Regions from separate parts of the Homo sapiens genome. Here all the other regions are linked to region 3. Evidence: fine-mapped expression QTL. A gene starts in region 3. Each other region holds a variant in brackets. All regions are shown on one strand. Distances are from middle to middle. Region 1 overlaps AVEN (apoptosis and caspase activation inhibitor). Region 2 overlaps AVEN (apoptosis and caspase activation inhibitor). Region 3 holds the start of AVEN (apoptosis and caspase activation inhibitor).

What was found. PIP is the estimated chance that this variant, and not a neighbour inherited with it, causes the effect.
Region 1: its variant is the best candidate, but not a certain one, in a credible set for the expression of AVEN in whole blood (TOPMed, PIP 0.80).
Region 2: its variant is the best candidate, but not a certain one, in a credible set for the expression of AVEN in tibial nerve (GTEx, PIP 0.72).

Annotation. Positions count from the first base shown.
Region 1 is chr15:33,951,852-33,960,034 of GRCh38, forward strand. The region is part of intron 2 of AVEN (apoptosis and caspase activation inhibitor); the gene reads right to left. Among named protein-coding and RNA genes, the nearest start is that of CHRM5, 13 kb to the right of the region's middle. The variant C/T (reference allele first, on the strand shown) is at 4,226.
Region 2 is chr15:33,991,593-33,999,775 of GRCh38, forward strand. The region is part of intron 2 of AVEN (apoptosis and caspase activation inhibitor); the gene reads right to left. All of the region lies in intron 1 of CHRM5 (cholinergic receptor muscarinic 5), which reads left to right. Among named protein-coding and RNA genes, the nearest start is that of CHRM5, 27 kb to the left of the region's middle. The variant G/A (reference allele first, on the strand shown) is at 4,677.
Region 3 is chr15:34,034,667-34,042,849 of GRCh38, forward strand. It overlaps AVEN (apoptosis and caspase activation inhibitor), which reads right to left and starts at 4,538. Exons shown (of 6, transcript NM_020371.3): 1 at 4,114-4,538. The coding sequence starts at 4,380. The region is part of intron 1 of CHRM5 (cholinergic receptor muscarinic 5); the gene reads left to right. RefSeq lists silencers at 3,511-3,570, 3,921-3,980, 4,071-4,280, 4,461-4,630.

The DNA of each region.
Region 1 (8,183 bases), 83 kb before region 3:
ACTCAAAGTAAAAATGTATCTTTACTGAGAAGATGCTTCTATTTCTCAGAGAAATCACTCTCAACTCCATCTGGAAAGCTGGATAAGACCAAGGCCAAACATTAATTTCCTAAATACTTACTATACACAATGTACCATCCCCACCCAAGTAAGCAGAGCTCTAGAGCTCAAAAATCCATTTGATTTCAATAGCAAGATGTATAGATTATTCAGGGTTTATGTGGCTGCAGTAACAAAAGATATATTTTAGAACAAAATTCTGTCTGGTCTAGCTTTAGAAATAAATCTGCGCCAAGGTGGATATATAGATAACAGCAGCTCACAAACAGGTGGAAATGATATTATCTTCAATAGCAAGATAAGTCAGCCTGTCTTCCACATCAAAAAGGGGAAAAAAAATCACTCCAGGTTCAAAGGTATAGATAGAGGGAGTTGGAGGAGGCAAAGCATTAGCAAAGAGAGCAATATACCTTGCAACCTATTCCCCAAACTATTAGAAGATGACTCCTAAATCTATCCTACTTTATCTGTCTAGATAGATGCTTATCCATAATTGGGACACCTGTAGTAACTTGGTTGCAGGAAATGAGAAATTAAGTCTCATCCACTGTAATTTCAGTATTTCTTCCCTTTCTGAGTCAGATACCAACATACTCAATGGCAATAAAATTACAATGATTCTCCAAAAAGATAGGAAACCGCATAAATAATGAAAGAGTATTACGTCTTTTTTAAAAACTGGCTCCCAAAACAGCATAAATGAAAAAATAGATATTAAATATGCATTTTTTGTAATAACTACACAACTTTACCTAATCTTCTGAGATTGTTGAACTAGATGTGGAACTGAAACTATCCAACTGAGGAAAACAGCATGGACAAGAATTTACCAATCAACCAATAAGTATGTCTGAATGCCTAATAGGGCACTATACGAAGACATCTACATATGCCCAAAACACCAAGTTGGACAGGCCATACACCCTTGTCCATAAGAGGCTAAAGAGAAAAAAAAAAAAAAACACTTCATTTCAACAACACATAGATCCCTAAGCATCCCAACATTTATATTAGAAAATAAGACTTTTCGTCTCAGGATACAAAATCAGTGTGCAAAAATCACAAGCATTCTTATACACCAATAACAGACAAGAGAGCCAAATCATGAGTGAACTCCCATTCACAAATGCTACAAAGAGAATAAAATACCTAGGAATACAACTTACAAGGGATGTGAAGGACCTCTTCAAGGAGAACTACAAACCACTGCTCTACGAAATAAAGAGGACACAAACAAGTGGAAGAACATTCCATGCTCATGGATAGGAAGAATCAATATCATGAAAATGACCATACTGCCCAAGGTAATCTATAGATTCAATGCCATCCCCATCAAGCTACCAATGACTTTCTTCACAGAATTAAAAAAAAAACTACTTTAAAGTTCATATGGAACCAAAAAAGAGCCCACATTGCCAAGACAATTCTATGCAAAAAGAACAAAGCTGGAGGCATCACGCTACCTGACTTCAAACTATACTACAAGGCTACAGTAACCAAAACAGCATGGTACTGGTACCAAAACAGAGATATAGACCAATGGAACAGAACAGAGGCCTCAGAAATAACACCACACATCCACAACCATCTGATCTTTGACAAACCTGACAAAAACAAGCAATGGGGAAAGGATTCCCTATGTAATAAATGGTGCTGGTAAAACTGGCTAGCCATATGTAGAAAGCTGAAACTGGATCCCTTCCTTATACTTTATACAAAAATTATTTCAAGATGGATTAAAGACTTAAATGTTAGACCTAAAACCATAAAAACCCTAAAAGAAAACCTAGGCATTACCATTCAGGACATAAGCATAGGCAAGGACTTCATGACTAAAACACCAATAGCAATGGCAACAAAAGCCAAAACAGACAAATGGGATCTAATTAAACTAAACGGCTTCTGCACAGCAAAAGAAACTACCATCAGAGTGAACAGGCAACCTATACAATGGAAGAAAATTTTTGCAATTTACCCATCTGGCAAAGGGCTAATATCCAGAATCTACAAAGAACTTAAACTTTCGAGAACTTAAATTTTCAAGAAAAAATCAAACAACCCCATCAAAAAGTGGGCAAAGGATATGAACAGACACTTCTCAAAAGAAGACATTTATGCAGCCAACAGACACATGAAAAAATGCTCATCATCACTGGTCATCAGAGAAATGCAAATCAAAACCACAATGAGATACCATCTCACGCCAGTTAGAATGGCGATCATTAAAAAGTCAGGAAACAACAGATGCTGGAGAGGATGTGGAAAAATAGGAACGCTTTTACACTGTTGGCAGGAGTGTAAACAAGTTCAACCATTGCGGAAGACAGTGTGGCTATTCCTCAAGGATCTAGAACTAGAAATACCATTTGACCCAGCGATCCCATTACTGGGTATATACCCAAAGGATTATAAATCATGCTACTATAAAGACACATGCACACGTATGTTTATTGTGGCACTATTCACAATAGCAAAGACTTGGAACCAACCCAAATGTCCATCAATGATAGACTGGATGAAGAAAATGTGGCACATATACATCATGGAATACTATGCAGCCAGAAAAAAGGATGAGTTCATGTCCTTTGCAGGGACATGGATGAAGCTGGAAACCATCATTCTGAGCAAACTATCACAAGGACAGAAAACCAAACACCATATGTTCTCACTCATAGGAGGGAATTGAACAATGAGAACACTTGGACACAGGGTGGGGAACATCACACCCCAGGGCCTGTCATGGGGTGGGGGGAGGGGGGAGGGAATAGCATTAGGAGATATACCTAATGTAAACGACGAGTTAATGGGTGCAGCACACCAACATGGCACATGTATACATATGTAACAAATCTGTACGTTGTGCACATGTACCCTAGAACTTAAAGTATAATAAAGACTTTTCAATCTGCATCTAGTCCCACAAACTCAACTCTTCTTAACTAAGATAAATAATATCTGAGTTATCAATATCAACATTTTCTCAATCATTAGATTTTCTACCCAGAAAAGTCCTTGAAAGGGCCACTGGAAGGTACCAAATGGCTATCTTTCTACAGCTTTGCACTGGAGTGAGTACAGGACATTTTGGATAATGCCCATCTGTACAAGAATTCAATATAAAATAAGCTTGCTTTTCAGATACCATAAAGAATACTATCTATCTGACACCACAGTATTGTCTTTTTTGTTTTAATTTTTTTAAAATGTAATCTATAACCTTAAGTGTCAGAAAATACTATACAATCTTTGCTGGTCAATATTCAAAGTATTCTATTAGGTGTACTTTTTTCCCTTAATCTTTTGTCTTAGTGACTCAAGGAACTATTGAAATATATTTGGGCATAGGGTTGAATTTTAAAAAAAAATCTAGATAGCAACCAAATTGTGAGTGAGAAGGAAAATGTAAATCAAGTTAACTTGTTGGTTTGAACATGTAATTACATTCTTCTTTAGGAATGTAAGCAAACAAGAATATCATTAAATATTTGGTGCTCTATTTGCCCCTAATATGTATAAATCTGCAGGCATAATCCACAACGTACAACGCTTAAAACTATAATGTACCACACAGAATTATAACGTCCTAGACCAAAAGGTATCTCAAGCAGTTATCTATTTACCTCCAATACTAAGCTAGTCAGGAAAAATGATAGTTTCATTTTAAAGAGTATTATGAATTTTAGAATTCTGAAAATAAAATGAGTGATGAGGCAGAAGTCATAGGAAGATAAGAAATGTCGGGGGGATGGGAATTAAAAAGAAAAGCACCATTCTGTTAAATTACATGCATTACTTGCTTTTCCAAAATTAAACACTAATAGTTAATCTCTCTCCGAATCAGTTACTTATGCTACCTTTGCAACCAAAGGGAGACACAAGCATGACTGCACATTTTTGTCCTAAGCATTCAGTGATGTAACGTAATTCACCATAAGAAAAGCTACAAACAGCAATAAGCAGCTAAACCAGTAGAGATGTGTTTCATGTATTCAGCATCTTCATATATATTCTCCAAAAATTAAATTTAAGACAACTGAAGAATATATCTTTAAACTATAATTTGTTAAGAGTGTTAAATTTTCATTCCATTAAAAATTCTATTTTAATGCTTCCTTAAATGGAAAATGCTGGGAATAATGTGACCTTTTGGGGTAAGTGACTCCCT[C/T]GGGCTGTTATCTGTAGGGCCGTCTGCCTCCGCGGTGACCAGCATTTGTAGTTATTGCGTGTAGCTATCTAGTTTCCCTGCTTCTCCCATGACACTAGAGCGCCAGCTGTCGCTCCTTGCTAAAGTCAACACGCCTGCCCCTACATTAGCTCACCTGTCCTGCTCTAATGTGCTGGCCCTACCTTTCCCATTTCCATCTCCCCGCTCCTCCAATTCCCCTCAACTTGAAATGCCCTTCTTCTCCAACACTGCGCATCCTCACTCTTGCCAGTGCAAAGTCTAATCAAACTTTCTGATCTGTCAATCTGATAACTGAAAATATGTATTTCAGTGTAATTAATTTGCATCTCTCCTATGAGTGCATTGAGCATCTTTTCACATGTTTAAGAGCCATTTGCATTTCATTTTCTGTGAACAGTCTGCTCATAGCCTTTGCCCAGTTTTAATAGGGTTGTTAAAACACATCATATATATTGGAAACTAGTTCTCTGTAATGAGTCACCATCCTATCTCCCCTGCCCACACACACATAATCATTTATCTTTTGGCCTTGGTTATGGTGGGTTTTGCCATGCAGAAATTCGTCACTTTTAGATAATCAGATTTAACAGCCTTGTATTTCTGGATTTTGTCCAATATTTTAAAACACCTTCCCTATTCTGACATTAGAAAAGAGTATGTCTATAATTTGTTCTAATATTTTTATTACATTAAGTTTTTGTTTTGCATTAAACTCTTTGGCACATGTTGACATCATCCTGATACGAGGTTTGAATACCAATTTTTTTCCCAGATGGTGAACTCCACTTGGACCAACACCATTTTCCTGACAAATCCATCTTTTTCCCCAGTGATGTGAAATGTTCGGGAGTTTTTTTTGGGTTTTTTGGTTTATGTCCTCATTGTCTGATATTTAGAATTTCTGGAAAAATAACATTCAGATAAACTAGGAGTAAGATAGTTTAGATTTAAGGCACTGCCTTGCACCTTCTTAAAGTTTAATAATTTGTTTTACCTGTGAGCTCCTCAGGAACAGTACTGGGAGCCACGTGCCCTTCTATGGCTAATATATGGTAAGTGCTTATTAACTGTTCTTTGAATGAATAATGAACTACATTTTTTAAATCTAAACATAGATTTCAATTCTCTTAGGATTTGGAAGAGTTCCACGGTCACTGTTATTTAGCCACACGTATATCCCAAAGGGTAACACTGCCAAGCTTCCTTGTCCATTAGAGACCTTTCTTCTTTGACAAAAAGTCCTTCAGTCTAGTCAATGTCTAGGATCTTCACTAGAGTCAATAAAAATTTAATCACAATTTGACTACATTACAACCACTATGGAAAACTATTTTGGCAGTTTCTTATAAAATTAAGCATAAATTTACCCTAGGACCCAACAATCCTACTCCTACGTATTTACCCAAGAGAAATGAAAACATATAACCACAAAAAGACTTGTATATTAATATTCACGGAAGTTTTATTTATAATATCCCAAAATTGAAACTAAATCAAATGTCTGTCAACAGGAGAAATGATAAACAAATTGTGATCTAGTCACATGATGGAATGCTAGTCAGCGGGTAAAAAGGAATAAACCCCATGCAACAACATAGGGGAATCTCAAAATCATTATATTGTATGAAAAAAAAAAAAGCCAGACATAAGCGAATACTGAATAATTCCATTTGTGCAGTCCAGGAATAGGCAAACTAATCACAGTGCTAGAAATCAGAACTGTGATTGCCTGGGGAGAGAGGCAAAAAGGGTGAAGAGGGCCTTTCTGGAGTGACAGTGGTATTTTATATCAGCAGTTTCCAAAGTGTGGTCCCTGAACCCAGTGGCACTTGGGAATTGTTAGAAAGTTGAATTCTCAGTCCTCACCCCAGATCTACTAAATCTGAAACTCTGAGTGGGAGTAGCAACTTACGGTCCGTCAAGCCATCCAGGTGTTTCTAATGCACACTAAATATTAAGAACCACTATTCTATAACTTGTTTGTAGAAGTGGTTACACAGGTGTACATAAATTGTCAAAGCTTATCAAACTGTTAAGATTTGAGCATTTTATATGTAAATTATACCCCAAATTTTAAAATGTGGATGAACTTTTCAAAATATTATCTTTAACCAAATCTGTCTTCTCCTCCTGTTTTCCTTACCTTGATAAATTGCAAAATAATTCACCTAGACGCTTGAATAATAAGAAAACTTCTTCTCGCCATGCACTGTGGCTCACGCCTGCAGTCCCAGCCCTTTGGGAGGCAGAGGTGGGTGGATCGCTTAAGGCCAGGAGTTCAAGACTGGCCTGGCCAACATGGCGAAACCCCATCTCTACTAAAAATACAACAACAACAAAAAAATCAGCCAGGCATGGTAGCACACATCTGTAATCCCAGCTACTCAGGTGGCTGAGGGAGGAGAATCACTTGAACTCAGGAGGCAGAGGTTACAGTGAGCCCAGATCATGCCACTGCACTCCAGCCTGGGCAAGACAGCAAGACCCTATCTCAAGAAAAAAAAAAAAAGGAAAAGAAAAGAAAGAAAACTTCTTTATACACTTTTCCCCATACAGCCAATCACATCTGCTAAATTAACCTTTGAAACATGCCTCTTCTTCATTCCTAATCCTCTATTTATACTCTTTCTAATCCCACCATCCTAGTTCAACAGGCACCTTTGTTTATTTTACCTGGTCTGGTAGAATAGCATCCAGCTCTCATTTTCCAATTCATCCTCTAAACTGCTAGAGCTATTTCTCTATGCCATAGGTGTGCTCGTGTCTTTTAGCTGCTTTTTTAAAGCTCACAGCTCCCCTCTATCTAGAGCATAAAATCTTCACTCCATAGTGGGGCACCAAAAACCTTTGGTGACCTGCTTTCAGCCCATCCTATCCAGTCTCCTCTCAAGCCATTGGTCTCCTCAGACCTGGCACCACATCAACATCAGCAGGGTCAAGATTTTCCCAATATGCCAAGCATATGCTTGCCTCTGATTCTTCACTCAAGCTGCTTCTCACGTCTAAAATTCCATCTTCCCAACTTCCCTGCATGGTGCAATCCTAGCTACCCTTTAGTATCCAGTTGAAACATCACCTCATTTGTGAAAGCTTCCTGTCATCAAACCCAAGGCAGAATTAATTACTCTCCTCTCTGACCTTACATTTTCCTACTAGATAGAATAATTACCTGTTTATGCCATACTTTTTTAAATACGAATTTCAGTCTTCAAGGACCTGAATGTGCAGCAGTTTTAGGTAATCTCTTCATATCACTTCCCTGCTTATGACCTTTCAATAGGTCCCTCTTGTCTACTAAACAAAGTTCAGATTCCTCAGCAGGAAGTCCAATCCAAGTCTACCTTCAGGCCCCTTAATGCCTCTTTAACCTCTCTCACTACTCCCTACACTTCAGTCATAGCCATAGCCCTCCGAGCACCACACTCTTGAACCCCCAGACTCTACCTAGGGGCAGAGGGAGGCCCCCTCCTCTCTCCACACCAGTGCCCACTCCCCAACCCCTCTAAAGACAGGTCATTAGGTTCAAGCACTAAGAATAAGCAACAAGAAAGGTCAGACACCAGGTGAACTGGAATGAGAACGAGGAAGAAGAGGAGGCAGAGCTGGTCCTTCTCAGCAAATGCTGGAGACATTATAAGGAGTAAAGCATGGTGTCTACCCTGGAGAAACGTTTAGTGGAGATCAGAAAGACATATAAACCAATTTCTACAACATGGAATGTGACAACAGAATGAATCCTATTACAGCAGAAAGGATATATATCAAATACACAAAGAGACACATATGCAAAAAAATGAAAGGCATGTCATGGTGAGATTTAACCAAAAATCAAAAACATCACTAAGCAGAAGATGCCACTGAACTCCAACATCTGTGCAGTAGTGTATAACTACTGGATTCGTGTCGGATGACTTGCCTAAGGGTGAAAAGGCAAGGC
Region 2 (8,183 bases), 43 kb before region 3:
TGTGACCTGTAGAAAGCACCCACATATCCTTTTCTCAAATCATGGGGAAATAAAATGGATACACTTTATCAGTAGAGCAAAAGAGAGATTAATTCTATGTAAGAAAAAAGCTAAAGAAACACTAAATAAAGCAGAAGCAGCCAGCAATTGTAACCTATGACTAAGAAACAAGGAAGAGATGTGGAAATTACTAGACAGAAAGGTAGAAAAAGAAACACTGAAAAAAACTCATGCAAAATCACCAAGAATCTCTAAACAAATGAGAATCAAAAGGTCATAGATTTAAAGGAAAAAGAAAGGGAAATAAAGCTGCCTAGGCTGGATCTGCTAAAGGAAATGCACAACTTCAGGGCAGGAAAATGATAGTTCAGGATGATGAAAATGATGCAGCTGGACCAGCAAAAACAAAGAATTGCTTCAAAACAACAGAAAACACAAAATGGCGCTGGAGACTAGCAGTTTAGCACACAAATTCTGCTCTTATCTTTTGAAGGTTTTTAAAAAGAAAATCAGGCCGGGCGCGATGGTTCACGCCTGTAATCCCAGCACTCTGGGAGGCCAAGGCAGGGGGATCACGAAGTCAGAAGATTTGAGACCATCCTGGCTAACAAGGTGAAACCCCGTCTCTACTAAAAAAATACAAAACAGTTAGCTGGGCGTGGTGGCGGGCACCTGTAGTCCCAGCTACTCGGGAGGCTGAGGGAGGAGAATGGCGTCAGCCCGGGGGGCGGAGCTTGCAGTGAGCCGAGATTGCGCCACTGCACTCCAGCCTGCGCGACAGATCAGGACTCCGTCTCAAAAAAAAAGAAAAAAGAAAATCAAATTAGGCCCAATATTCAATATTCAGCTACAAGGAAAAGTTTTTTTGTTATCGGAGTTTTCCTTGTTTTTATTTTTTTGGTTATCCAATTGAAAATTTTTTTAGCCCTGTCAGCCAGAACAAATTTTTTAATTTATAGTTCTGTTTGTGTTATTTCAGATGTTTTAAATATCAAAGGGAAGAATCTTCTTCTACTATATTGCCTTTGTAATATGAGACTATATTGGCACAAACTATATACCATACAAGAAGAGGGAAAAAAATGAGCTGAATCAATGAGGACAAATAAAACTGTCTTGTTGCCTCATGGAAAGAAAAGGTTCGAGGTTTAATTTAAAAGTACAGGCTGCTAGAGTAATATCCTTTCTTTTCCCTTCAGTCTAATTGTTGGCACAAGGAACAGAGGAGGGAAGAAATTCCAATGTCATTACAATTAAAATTTCCTACCCAAAATAGCTTTTCATAAAATTAAATTGAAGAAAATATATAATAGTTTTAAGCAAAAATATGCACAGACAACAACTATACTGACCAAACTGCAGTCTGGTTATTTCGTTTTTATTTGTATCTCTAAAAATAGTGTTTACAGACTTGCACATAATATTTTCCCCACGTTTTCTTCAATATTGATCCAGTGCATTCTGCTCACACTGTTAAACATTTTTCTAACTCTGGCTATCTGTGACATCTTGAAAGGAACAGACAATGCATATTGCATGAATTCAATGATTTGACTTTTGGGGAAAAAAAATGAAGGGCAGAAGAAATTTCTCATAGATCTTACTTTTTACGTTTGAAGGTAAGAGTGGGGTGCCATTTTCAAAGCTCTTGAAACGTAACTTAGAACTGCCAAGAATACTGTTCAAAAAGAAAAGCCAAAGGCATGATTATCTCTTTCAGAGACTAACAGAAAGAGTTCTACAAAGACACCTAAAGACTCACAATCTTACCAGAAAAAGTATGACTTTGAACAACCGTCCCCTTTCCCATATCCACCACTAATAAAAATGAGAGTGTCACTGTCAGTGGTCAGAAACAAACAGAGCAGGCAATGCCCGTGTGGCACAAGTGGAAGGAGGCAGGCTGGAAAGGGCTGCCTCTCCAAAAATGGTTCCCACCTCTATGGTGGTAACAGAAATTTTACCATTAGAAATCCACTTTTAAAGAGTTTTATTCCTTTTATAAAGAGATCTGTAAAATAAAAAATTGATAATACATATGAGCTTATAGAATAATTATTAAACCAACATAAATAACAATCATCCAGGCCAGGAAATAGAATACTGCCAACACCACACCTGCTACCGGGCCCTCCTCAATCATTACACCTCATCTCCCCACTAGAGGTGACCGCAATCATGATATCTGGAATAATCATTTCCTTGATTGTCACTTTAGTATTTAAATATACATCCTTAAAAAATAGGGTTTTTTTTTCCTGTGTTTGAACTTTATATAATAGAATCATACTAACGAATTCTGTGGGCATGTTTCTTTTACTTCATGCTATGTTGAAAAGATTCATCCACTTATTTAAGTATTCATTCCACTATTAATGAATATTTGCGTTGCTTCCATCTGAGGCTCTTCTGAACATACAGCTGTGAACATTTGGGCACACACGTGCTGGAGTTTCTCTAGAACAGGGGGTCCCCCACCCCCAGACCATGGATCAGTACCGGTCTGTGGCTTGTTAGGAACCGGGCTGCATAGCAGGAGGTGAGTGGTGGGCAAGTGAGCAGATTCTTCTCTATTTACAGCCACTCCCTACTGCTTGCATTAGTGCCTGAGCGCCACCTCCTGTCAGATCAGCAGCAGCATTCGATTCTCATAGGAGCCAAACCCTATTGTGAACTGCACATGCAAGGGATCCAGGTTGCACGCTCCTTATGAGAATCTAAGGCCTGATGATCTGTCAGTCTCCCATCATTCCCAGATGGGACCATCCAGTTGCAAGAAAACAAGCTTAGGACTCCCATTGAGTCTACATTATGGTGAGTTGTATAATTATTTCACTACATATCACAATGTAATAATAATAGAAATAAAGCACATAATAAATGTAACACGCTTGAATCATCCTGAAACCGTCATCCTCACCCTGGTCTGTGGAAAAATTGTCTTCCACAAAACCGGTCCCTGGTGCCAAAAAGGTTGGGGACCTCTGCTCTAGAGTATCCTTTAAGGGTGAAAGTGCTAGATCTTCAGTTTTATCAGAAAATGGCAAACTATCTTCCAAAGTGAGCATCGACATATACATACAGTGTGTGTGAAATAGAAATTCACTTTTTAATTACAAGTCTTCAAAAATTCACTGTTACAATGGAAATCTACTTAGAGAATATATGTTAAGCTATATTCTCTACTCTTGAAGTTCTATATTCTCTACTCTTAGATAAAGGTGTACTCTTAGATAAAGGTCTATCTTCCAAATAACATTTGAGAATTGGACCAGAGGTCCAGCTAATTTGGGAAGAAAAAAATAACATACAGGCAACCATCCACATTGGTAGATTTAACCAACCATAGATCAAAAATATTTTTTAAAAATAAAAAATAATAATACTGGCCAGGCACAGTGGCTCACACCTGTAATCTCAGCACTTTGGGAGGCCAAAGAGAGAGGATCACTTGAGACCAGGAATTCAAGACCAGCCTGGGCAACACAGCAAGGTCCTGTCTCTACAAAAAAATGAAGAAATCAGCCAGGTGTGGGTGGCACACCTCTATAGTCCCACCTACTCAGGAGGCTGGGGCAGGAGGATTGCTTGAGCCCAGGAGGTCAAGGCTGCAGTGAGCTATGATCATGCCACTGCACTCCAGCCTGGGTGACAGAGGAAAACCCTGTCTCTCTAAAAATAAATGAATAAAGAAAATTATTTTAAAATAACAATACAACAATAAAAATACAAATAAAAAATAATACAGTATAACTTTACATAGCACTTACATTGCATTAGATATTATAAGTGATTTAAAGATGATTTAAAGTATATAAAGGAAGGTATCTATACTTTTTGCATAGGTTATATGCAAATATTTTGCCATTTTATATCAGAGACTTAGCATTCCTAGATTTTGGTATCCACAGGCGTCCTGAAACCATCCCTCTTGGATACCAAGGGAAAACTTTTGAGTCCTTAAGTCCTCAAAAGCAATTGCAACAAAACCAAAAATTGACAGGTGGGACCTAATTAAACTAAAGAGTTTCTGCTCAGACATTTTTCGAAGTTACTGAAATGACTAAATGAATCAGATGCTTCAGACCACACCAAACTGCAGGTCATAAGCCATTAGTGGGACATTATATCATTTGGGTTTTTAAAATGCTGCTGCAGCTCCCAGCGTGATCAATGCAGAAGACAGTGATTTCTGCATTTCCAACTGAGGTACCTGGTTCATCTCATTCGGACTGGTTGGACAGTGGGTGCAGGCCACGGAGGGCGAGCTGAAGCGGGGCGGGGCGCTGCCTCACCCTGGAAGCGCAAGGGGTCAGGGGATTTCCCTTTCCTAGCCAAGGGAAGCCATGACAGACTGTACCTGGAAAATCTGGACACTTCCGCCCAAATACTGCGCTTTTCCAACAGTCTTAGCAAATGGCACACCAGGAGTATATCCCACACATGGCTAGGTGGGTCCCACACCCACACAGCCTTGCTCACTGCTAGCGCAGCAGTCTGAGATAGACCTGTGAGGCAGCAGCCTGGCAGGGGGAGGGGCGTCTGCCATTGCTGAGACTCGAGTAGGTAAACATTGTGGCTGGGGAAGCTTGAAGTGGACAGAGCCCACTGCAGCTTAGCAAGGCCTGCTGCCTCTGTAGACCCCACCCCTGGGGGCAGGGCATAGCTGGACAAAC[G/A]GCAGCAGAAACTTCTGCAGACTTAAACGTCCCTGTCTGACAGCTCTGAAGAGAGGTGTGGTTCTCCCAGCACAGTGTTTGAGTTCTGAGAACCGACAGACTGCCTCCTCAAGTGGGTCCCTGAACCCCATGTAGCCTAACTGGGAGACAACTCCCAGTAGGGGCCGACTGACACCTCATACAGGCGGGTGCCCCTCTGGGACGAAGCTTCCAGAGGAAGGATCAGGCAGCAACATTTGCTGTCCTGCAATATTTGCTGTTCTGCAGCCTCCGCTGGTGATACCCAGGCAAACAGGGCCTGGAGTGGACCTCCCACAAACTCCAACAGACCTGCAGCTGAGGGACCTGACTGTTAGAAGGAAAACTAACAAACAGAAAGGAATAGCATCAACATCAACAAAAAGGACATCCACACCAAAACCCCATCTGTAGGTCACCAGCATCAAAGACCAAAGGTAGATAAAACCACAAAGATGGGGAGAAACCAGAGCAGAAAAGCTGAAAATTCTAAAAACCAGAGCGCCTCTTGTCCTCCAAAGGAACGCAGCTCCTCGCTAGCAAGAGAACAAAGCTGGATGGAGAATGACTTTGATGAGCTGACAGAAGTAGGCTTCGGAAGGCTGGTAATAACAAACTTCTCCCAGCTAAAGGAGGCTGTTCGAACCCATCGCAAGGAAGCTAAAAAGCTTGAAAAAAGATTAGATGAATGGCTAACTAGAATAAACAGCGTAGAGAAGACCTTAAATTACCCGATGGGGCTGAAAACCATGGCACAAGAATGTAGCAAACAATAAAATGTAACATTCTTCAGGAAAAAAAGCAAAATTAGAACTTCTAGAAAATATAGGAGAACATCTTTAACCTTGGGAGAAAGATGGATTTCTAAAGGCATAAAACAGCATAAACAGTAGGATAGAAAATTGATAAATTCAACTAAAATTTAAAACAATGCACTGAAAGACACACTATAGAAGTGAATCTCATATCAGGAGATACCTGCAAACACAAATATCAAAAGATAAGTATCAAGACTACTTTTTTTTTAACCCACAAATCAATAAGAAACAAAATAGCCAAATGGTCAAAGAATGTGAGCAGCAGTTCACAAAGAAAGCAAGCACCACAAATACAAAGATGTTCAACCTCAGTAATAACTAAGGAAATGTAAACTAAAAACTCCAAAGACGAGGTCTCCACACCAACTCACAGCCAGGCACACCCGTATTTTTATATAAGACTATATCATTACCGTCATCCGCAACCCCCTGCCCCACCAAATCTCAACGTCAAACATTCTAATCTACAGCCACCACTTCCCACCTCTCCAACTCACACTTTCTCAAGAAGGTCAATAATCCTTCTGCCCTGAAAAAATCTGTAGTCCTGTGATCCCAATATCTTTTTACTGCCCCTCATCTTCTCTCATATCTTCACTTATTTCCTTATCCCACTTAAATTCATTTCAATCATTCTAATCATCTCCTTTTCCCTCTCTCATTTCATTGCATTTGCTCTGCTAAACTGTAATCATGATTAAGTCCTACCCTTCCGTCCGGTCTTTCTGGGCCTGCACCCATACAGCACAATATGAGTCAGGGAAAAGTATACCTGTTCTCACCTTAAATTTATGAATACCAACTTCATGTGGGCCCCTATTGTCACCCAACATCTATACCACATTTTCCTACTTGGAAAATAGGAAACTATACTTTCCCACTTCCTTGACAACTATTTCTTACCTTCTGCTCTCTCCTTCCACTTCCAGTACCTCCTCCACAACACTTATCCATGGTTTTCTTAGACCACTTCCTCAAGCCTCCATGACATCTACCCATCTACCCATATCTATGCCCATATATTCTGCCTTTCCTCCAATTACAGTTGGAAAACTGCCCAAGCCCCAGCAATGGGCCATCCCTCCACCTGCACAATAGATCCTATCAAGCTCATATCTACTAAAGAACACAGATCCAGGAATTCTCACCCCTCCCCTTATGATTTTTGTCCCCTTTTCTGGATCTATCAACAAGTAAACATGTAGTTATTTCTCCCACCTTTAAAAAAATGTCTTAACTGGCCAAGCATAGTGGCTGACATCAGTAATCCCAGGACTTTGGGAAGCCAAGGCAGGATTGTTTGAGCCCAGGAATTCGAGACCAGCCTAAGCAACATAAGAAGACCCTGTCACTACAAAAGAAATGCCAAAAAAAGAAAAAATTAAAAAGTCTTGACTCACTTCTCCCACCAGCCCATTATTCTCCTTTCCTTTATAACAAAACTCCTTAAAATTAAGTCATTTATACCTGCTGTCTCAAACATCTCTTCCCACATTCTTTTTAAATTCAAGAAAAAATTTATGCCACCACTCCAACAAAACTGCACTTGTGAAGATCACCAATAACCTTCCTGTTAAATTTAACAGTCAATTCTTCATTGTCATCAACTGCATTTGATACAGATCTCTCCTCCTGCTTCAAAACACTTAAAGACACTACACTCTCTGGTTCTTTCTTCTACCACTCATGCTCAGTCTCCTTTGCTGGTCTCTTCTCTTTCCCCTAAACTCTAGACACTGTGGTGCCTGGGAATCAGTACTTCTCTAGGTAATAACTCCCCCTGTCATCTCATACATTCTCACGACTTTAAATATCATCTATAGGCTGGCATCACCCAAATGTATTATTGCCAACCCAGGCCTGGATCCTGAACCCCACATTCCTCTATCCAGCAGCCTGCTCCATGTCGCCTATTAGATGTTGTGCTGGGTCTCTTCCATGTGCCAATGCAGATTTATCCTCCACCCTTCTCCAACCTGTTCTACCCTAGAAGGTTGACCAATATGGATTACAACTTCCCTTGTCTTCTGGCTTCCAGTAGGTTAGACTTATGGAAGCCTTGGCAGAGGGAGGAAGAGAATGTTTATTCCTCTGACTCTCTCAGAGTGGGGTCATCTTCACTGGCTGAGTCCCCTCACCGAAGGTGATTCATTCTCCCAAGGCCAACTCTCTATGACTCCCTTCAAATTTCCAGTAACTAGGGTGGTAACATCTCTGCCGCTACTTGCCCTCTCAACACAGCACTACCTCAGTGCTTTCATTAGACTCTACACATACCTTTGTAAATGATTCCTTTGTCAAAGTGTTCAATTATATTGAGTGTGCCAGCCATTTATTAAGGAATTCTGACTGCAACAGGTATCAAAGTGACATCTCACTTTTAATACATGCAACACTGGTACCTCCTATAACTTACACACCTCAGTTAAGGGCAACTCCCTTCTTCTCACTGTTCAGACCCAAAACCTAGTGTCATCCTTACGTATCTTTTTCTCTCATACCCAGCATTTGCAAGTGCTCTCTGCTCTTCTCTCTACGTAGATCTAACCCAACCACTTTTCACCACCTCCACTGCTCTCCTCTGGACCCAGCAACCACCACCGCTGCTTACCTGGATTATTATTAGTGGCTTCCTAACTAGTCTACCTGCTACTAGTAGTAGCAGTGGCTT
Region 3 (8,183 bases):
AAAATATGTAAGTGAAATAGTGGTCAGTGAGAAAAGCAACTTAAAAACAGAATATGTTAACAAGGATAAGGATGCCAAAATAATTACAGTGTGTGTGCAATGGTTTGCAGCAGGAGGAGAGGTCAATTTCATGGATTACCAAGAACTAATCTTAAAGCAATCTTCTGTTGGGACACTTAAGCACATTCAGTTTCTAACCAAATTTGCTTCAGGCTTTCTGGAAAAAAAGGAAAATAAAGTCTAGAGGCTGTCATTTCAGTTTGAGCTTTTAACAGGCTCTCAGTCTCTAGCTGGCTGACAAGCGGCTGGTGGCTACTCTGAGCAACAATGAAGGAGCAAGTCCTTAGACACCTGCCTGTAACTGATCTGACACCATTTCTTCCCTCCAGGTTCACACTAAACTTGAATAGAAAATTAGAGATTTCCTTTTTACCCAGTGAAATGAAAATGTCAACGCCATCGGGTATTAATTACTACTCAGGCTTTGTTTACAAAGCAAAAGTTTGATCAGAATTAAATGCCTCCAGATTCTACTTTTTAGTACAACTATAAACAGCTGTCTCATCTTTTATTGAATATAAATCATTTTAAAAGGAATATGAAAAGCTGCAATATAAACATGGAGCAAGAAAGCAAAGGTCTGGTAACACCCACAATAACTGAAGATGGTACCAATGTTACCTTAAAACCTTATAACCATACTAACATATCAGTTAAAAAAATAATCAGGCATGTGAAAGAATCACTCAACAGTCCTCCACACACCCCTTTTTCAAATCTCAAAGTCATTCCAGGAGCAGTTTAGAGCAGCAGTCGAAAGAACAGGCTCTGGAGTGAAAATGCTGGGGTGGAATCCAGGCTCAGCAATTTTCTGGTTGAGTGATATTAAAAAGTTATTTCACCTCTCCTAACTGTGAGTTATTTAACGGTGCCTCAGCTGTCTCATCTTATATTAAGTACTCGACAAATGTGAATTACTGTTATTACTAGAGGAAGGAAAAAAGAAAAAAAATTCCAAAGACTACCAGCTGGCCTTGTCTTCCTCTCTGCTAACAGCCCATCACAAAGATAAATACTAAACAATCCTAGTATTGGGGGCAGTGATAGGGGGATTATTTATTCATTTAGTTAGTAAGTTAGTTATTTGAGACAGAGTCTCACTCTATTGCCCAGGCTGGAGTGCAGTGGCAGGATCACAGCTCACTGCAGCCTCCACCTCCGGGGCTCAAAACAATCCGGCTGCTTCAGCCTCCCTTGTAGCAGGGACTACAGATGCACCCCGCCATGCTCGGCAGTTTTGTATTTTTTTTATAGAGAGGGGGTCTCGTTATGTTGCCCAGTCTGGTCTCGAACTCCCAGACTCAAGTGACCCACCCACCTCAGCCTCCCAAAGTGCTGGGATTACAAGCGCGAGCCACCACACCCAGCCAGTTTTGTGTTTTTTTTTTAAAGTTAATGATTGTATCTAGTACAATAATGCTTCTAGTGAGTATTCCGTGAAGATAATTATGCTCACCCATAATCAGTAAGCTTAGAGCTCAGACCATTTACAGAAGGAATGATTTAAGAGCAAGAGACTAAGAGATGTACTCAACTTAGTACTCAACTAAGTTACCCTGGAGTATTACATAGCTATGTAGAAGTTGGTTAGATTGATTTTGTTTTCCATTTGTATGCAGTGGTCCAAAATAGAAAGCAAAGGTGTACACAAAATTGGTTTCTGAAGGTGGACAACTGGTCTTTACATGGCTAGGAGTCTATTATGATTTTTTTTTCCTTTGATCATTTCGGTTACTCTCTCCTTGGGGCACAAATGCACCATGGGATATGAGAACAAGAAGGCTTCAGGAAAGTCAATCAATCTTGTCTCATGTAATGGTTAAGCACCAAAAATGGTGTCCTAGCAAGACTAAATACAAACAGTACTTCAGAATCTGAGAAATGGAAGGAACTTAGAGATGACCAATCCAAACCAAAATTAAGGAACAATCTGCCCAACATCCCTCCCTCCAGCTTTGGCTGAAAACATGATGATGAAGGGATAAGACCAACTCGACAAAAGAAAAAGCCTAAAATTTTAACAGAATGTGTTACAATACTATCTTAAATTTTTTAAAGTCTTGTATTATTCTTTCTTTTAATGATATACCATCATGACCAGGCGCAGTGGGTCACACCTGTAATCCATATCCCAGCACCTTGGGAGGCCGAGGCGGGTGGATCACCTGAGGTCAGGAGTTCGAGACCAGCCTGACCAACATGGTGAAACCCCATCTCTATTAAAAATACAAAATTAGCCGGGCAAGGTGGCTCATGCCTGTAATCCCAGCTACTTGGGAGGCTGAGGCAGGAGAATCACTTGAACCCGGGAGGCGGAGGTTGCAGCAAGCCAAGATCATGCCATTGCACTCCAGCCTGGGCAACAAGAGTAAAACTCCGTCTCAAAAAAAAAAAAAAAATATATACCATCATTTCACCCAATTTAATTCAACAGAGATTAACAAAACAGAAGCACCTTCACTCACTCAATTCAACTTAAAGACACTTATTAGTAAAGTCCTGTGCGCCAGACACCATAGTTAACACCAAATGTACCATTACTACAATTACTCTTAAAGCACGATCCCTGCAGCTAAGGAATATCTACTTTGTTCTCAATAAAGTGGTAACTGGTTCACGAAAAAGTAAGAGATAAAATACTGTTGACTCAAGGGCAGCTTGATATAAATCCCAGCTCTGCCACTAGCTGTGAAAGCTTAGGCAAGTCAGTTAACCTGTAAAAATAAAGATTACTCTCTATATATGGATATATAAATAATATATAACATTGTAGTTAATATATAATTACATACTATTATATTACATAATTCTACATTACATATATATTATATATATATAATAGAGTTATAAGAACAAAATGTGATATATAGTGGGCACTAGGTTGGTCTTAGTTTCTGTCATTTACCTTAGTTTCTGTCAGTTTACACGAGGTAAACTGACCCTAAAAATGTTTTTATATCTCATTCAAGTTTTGCCTATTACCTATCTTAATCCTAACAAGATTTAAGTTTGTTACATTTAAATTTAAGTTTTATACTTTTTTTTCCAGCTCTGTATTGCTGTATACAACTACTCTCTTTAGGGATATCTTATCTGCTATGCCCTCAAGATATTGTAAATACTTCAGTAAGAGCAAATTTTGCCTCATGCAAAAAAGAATTTTTTAAATCAGTGTGCATAAGAATGCAGAATATAAAGATGGTCTTGTCCTACAGATGTTAAGGTAACAGAACAACTCATAAAAAGACAGTCCTCTAACTCCTTTAGCTGAGATATGGTTAGCTTTGCCCCCATATATATCATCCCCTGCTCCAATCTCCAAAAACTTCCTTCTATGAATGTGTCAATAAGACTGATGATATTGCTATTAAAACTCAGAACTTGACTGCTCATTTATAAATTGAAAATTCAAAACGACAAAGCCCAGTGCTCGCTGATTTCTACACATACAGGCATAATAAAAGAGAACTACGCTATTACAAAGAACTATGCATCTGGTCCCGCCCCCAAATACTAGAGTCCAGTCGTAGGGGTCATTCTTTCACTCAACAAACTTTTTATTATGCGCCTACTGTGTACTAGGCATTGCACAGACAGTTAACAAAACAGACCAAAAAATCCTTTCCCTCCTAATAACAGGAGCGTGCCCGTAAAGGCTGCCGAGGGACCACGTCGTGGCCGCGCCTCCGTCCCATAGTGGTACTCGTACAGACAGCCCAGCCGGCCCACGGGCCGCCGAGACTTGCAGCCCTGACACACGGCCTTGGCCTCTGGGTTCCTAACCCGGACCCTGGGGCAGGCTGGGAAGCCCTCCTACCCCCACTGTCTCGCGCCAGCCCGGCCAGGAGGCCACGAGGGCCAAGCGCATACCCAGGCGCGCCCCCGCCACCAGGCGCGCCCCCGCGCCACCATCCGCCCGTCCCGCGCAGGCGCCGGCGCCGCCGCCCGTCTGGCGCGCGCCTGGCACGCTCTCTTGCGGCTCTTGACTGGCGGCCTCGGCCCCACTTGCCCCAGTTACACGCGGTCCCAGCCCCACCAGCCGTCGCCTCTTACCGGCGCGCTGGCCCCTGCGCCCCAGCCTCCCGGCTCCCGGCGGCTGCCTCGCGGGGCGCCTCCTCCTCCTCGGCCTCCGCGAGCGCCGCGGAAGCCCCGGCCACGGCCACGGCCCCGGCGTCCGCCTCCGTCCCCGCCGCCGCCTCCGCCGCCGCCTCTGGCTACCGCCGCTGCGGCTCCGGGCCGCTCGCTGTGGCGATCTCCGCCAGGCCGGCCGCGGCCTGGCCGCCGCCCACGGCCTCCCCGAGCTCCTCGCTCCGCCTGCATCTGGCCGCCGCTGGCGGTGCTGAGCGCGCGGGAGCCGAGCTGCGGCGGAGACGCCCTGGCCCCACCGGAAGCGGGCCGCACGGAGGAGCCGCGAGCGAAAGGCGCCCGGTAGCAGCGAGGCGCGGGGTGCGGGGCTAGGGATCGAGGCCGGCCGCAGCGGAGCGGGGCGGGGCGGGGCGGCCGGCGTCCCGCAGGTGGGGCCGGAACCGGGACCGCGGGAAGGCCGGACCGCTGGGAGCTGGAAGTGGTGGGGGTCTGCAGCGGGGCGGGGGGATTCTCAAGGCATCAGAGATAGGTTGGGGGAGAGACCGTGCTAAGTGCAAGGACGAGTCATAAAATAAAATTTGTATGATGTGAACTCTCGGAAAAAAAAAGTTTAAACGTATGTATTTGCATAAGAAAAGGTCTAAACAAATACATACTAAAATGTTAGTGGTTAACTGCTGAGATTTGAAGTGAGTTAATTTTTTTTCCTCCGTTTAATCTAATTTTCAGCAACGAATGTGTATCATTTTAAAACTATACCGAAGTCAGGGTTCAGGAGGTGTGGATGTAAAGACAAGAGTTTGTGTCTGGTGAGAGGTGGACTGCAGCACGTGGGAGAGAGAACAGTGCGAAACTGGGAGATGGCTAGAAAGGGCGTCAAAGTCCTCAGCAGAATTTCTGTAGAAATGACTACTACAGCTGACATTTATTGAGCACATGAGTATTTCATTCTCATAACAGCTCTATGAGGTAGGGATGACTGTCATCCTTATTCTGCAGTGAGGTAACAGCCTTGGAAAGGTTAAAAAAAACTTGACTAAAGTGAATAACTAGGTAGTGGTGGAACTGGCATTCTAAGGCGGTCTCACTCCAGTCCCTTCTTTCAACCAAGGAGAAAACAGGAAGGGGAACAGTTGGTTACACAGATGCATGAAAGCAGTTTTTAACTTGGGACTGAAACCACCTGAAAATAATGAAAGCAAGGGCTAAAATGTCAGCCTAGCAGAATAAGTGTTTTCTTCCCCCTCAGTACTTTCTGGTTCTTTCCTATATCCATACATAGTTAATACTTTTCATTGCTTCTAATTGCCTACTCTGCATCAGGCACAGTGCTATGTCCTGAAATTAAAAACAAAAACAAAAAAAAAACCTTGCCCCTGCCCTCAAGTAGCTCACTGCCCACAAGGAAGATAATCTAGTCGTGTGAATAGATGATTACAGTACCGTGTTGCTGAGTGCAGTGAGAGATTCAAGATCAAGGTCCAAAGAAGAAAAGTTAAATTATATTTAAACGGGTTACCCAAGGCTTCATGAGAAATAGACCCCTGAGCTAAAGCCTAATGGTTGAGTAGGAGTTTGCCTGGTTGGTAAATGGGAGTAGGGGCGCCTTCCAGACAGGGGGAACTATTGAAGGATTGTCAACTCCAGAGAAACAGTCTTAAAAATAGTAACACTTGTAGAGCACTTATATGCACCAAACACTATTCTACATACTTCTCATATCACTTCATTTGGGACTAATAGCTGGCCTACGAGGTAAGCTAGTGTTGTCTCCATTTTACAGATCAGGAATCTAAAACAGATGTTAAGTAACTTCCAAGATTACACAGTTACAGGCCAGGTGTGTGGTTCGTGCCTGTAATCCCAGCATTTTGGGAGGCTGTGGCGGGTGGATTGCCTGAGACATGAGTTCAAGATCAGCCTGGGCAACATGGTGAAACCCCATTTCTACAAAAATTAGCTGGGCATGGTGGTATATGCCTATAGTCCCACTACTTGGGAGGCTAAGATAGAGAATCATTTGAGCCCAGGAGGTTGAGGCTGTAGTGAGCTGTGATTGTACATGGGCAACAGAAGGAGACTGTCTAAAAAAAAAAAAAAGATTTCAACATGAATTTTGAGGGAGATGAACATTTAGACCATAGCAGTGGGGAAGGGGCATGGAAGAATATGGTTAAATATCTACCAGCATATCACTGGTCTGGCCTCTCACCAAGTTGAAGATCCACACATTAATCTCAAACTAGACATTTGCACAAATCGGAGTTTCTCAATGTTGGCAAATTTAGGGCTGGGTAACATTTTGTGGCGGTAGCTTATCCTGTGCATTGTAGAATATTTAATAGCATCCCTGGCCTCTACCCACTAGATGCCAGAATGAACCCCTCTCCCCCTCATTAAGACAACCAAAAACATCTCCAGACATTGCCAAATGTTCCCTGAGAGGCAATCACCCTGGATGAGAACCACTAGCACAGATAGATTGGTGCAAAAGGTACGTTTTAGTATCTAAGGAGCTACCGATGTAATTTATCCAAAAATTTATCCAGCCTTAAATTTGCCAACATTGAGAAACCCTGATTTGGGCAAATGTCTGGTATGAGATTAATATGTACATCTCCAATGTAGTGAGAGACGAGACCAGTGGGAAATAGGGCTTTAAGGAACTATATAACTATCCCTTGAGAAGCCTCCAAAATTATGAGGTTGAAAAGATCAGTGGCTTGCAGATTAAGCCAGTGTTATTAGGGCACATTCACTATGCTTGATACTTTCAACTAGTCAGTGTAAGACTCAGTAACACTTTTGAAAGGTATGCCATTTTAGAGAGAGATTGGTTTGTGGATGATGCCAAGTTTTTTTAACACTTATTTTGCACCTGATACTATTCTAAGCACTTTCCACGTACTAACTCATTAAATCTTCAAAATATCCCTATGAAATAAACACTATTATTATTCCTATTTTACAGATAAGAAAACTGAGTTGCAAAAAAGTTAAATAATTTGCTCAAGCTAGTAAGTAACAGAACTGGGATTTATACCAGTACAGTCTAATTCCAGAATCCATGCCTGTAAGTCTATTCTGCAGATGCCCTCAGAAGTCCGGGGGTATGTTACTCTCCATCTGTTCATTCAAGGCGTATCTTGTTTTTCTCAATTCAACCAAGAGTGTTTAGGATAGGAAAATTCTGAGGTCCCCCTTCTAGCACTTCCTAATTAGCGGACACAACTAGCCAAAGTTCTTTCAACAAGGATACGGTATATGCTGTCCTCGTGTGATTCTGGTCCAAAAATGTGTTATTAAGGTTTAAAAATACCACACAAGTACCTCCTGCATTTTGAGCAACCAGAGACCTTTGGATTGCATAAATAACAAAGGGAAGGAATCTTTTCTGGTATTGCTTTTGCTTGATAGTCCTGATTTTAAACATATGCCATTGCATGAATAAAAAATTCAGTTTTCCCTTAGGTAGGACTCATGAGAATTCATGAGTATCAAAACCAAAGTGCTGAATTATATAGGTAGCTCCTTAGAAACGAAACTGTACTTTTTGCATATTTTTAATACATACATGACCTAAGTTTTTTTTTTTTTTTTTTTTTGAGACGGAGTTTCGCACTTGTTGCCCAGGCTGGAGTACAATGGCGCAATCTCAGCTCACCACAACCTCTGCCTCCCAGGTTCAAGCGATTCTCCTGCCTCAGCTTCCTGAGTAGCTAGGATTACAGGCATGCACCACCACGCCCGGCTAATTTTTTTGTATTTTTAGTAGAGACGGGGTTTCTCCATGTTGGTCAGGCTGGTCTCAAACTCCCGACCTCAGGTGATCCATCCGCCTCAGCCTCCCAAAGTGCTGGGATTACAGGCAACAGCCACCGTGCCCGGCAACCTAAGTTATTTTTTAAATAAAATGGTAGCCAATTCCTTAAGGTAGTTGTTCTCAAAATGTAGGCCAGAAAAATAGCATCACCTGGGAACTTGTTAGAAATGCAAATTCAGAATTAAAACTCTGGGGATGAGGCCCAGTAATCTGT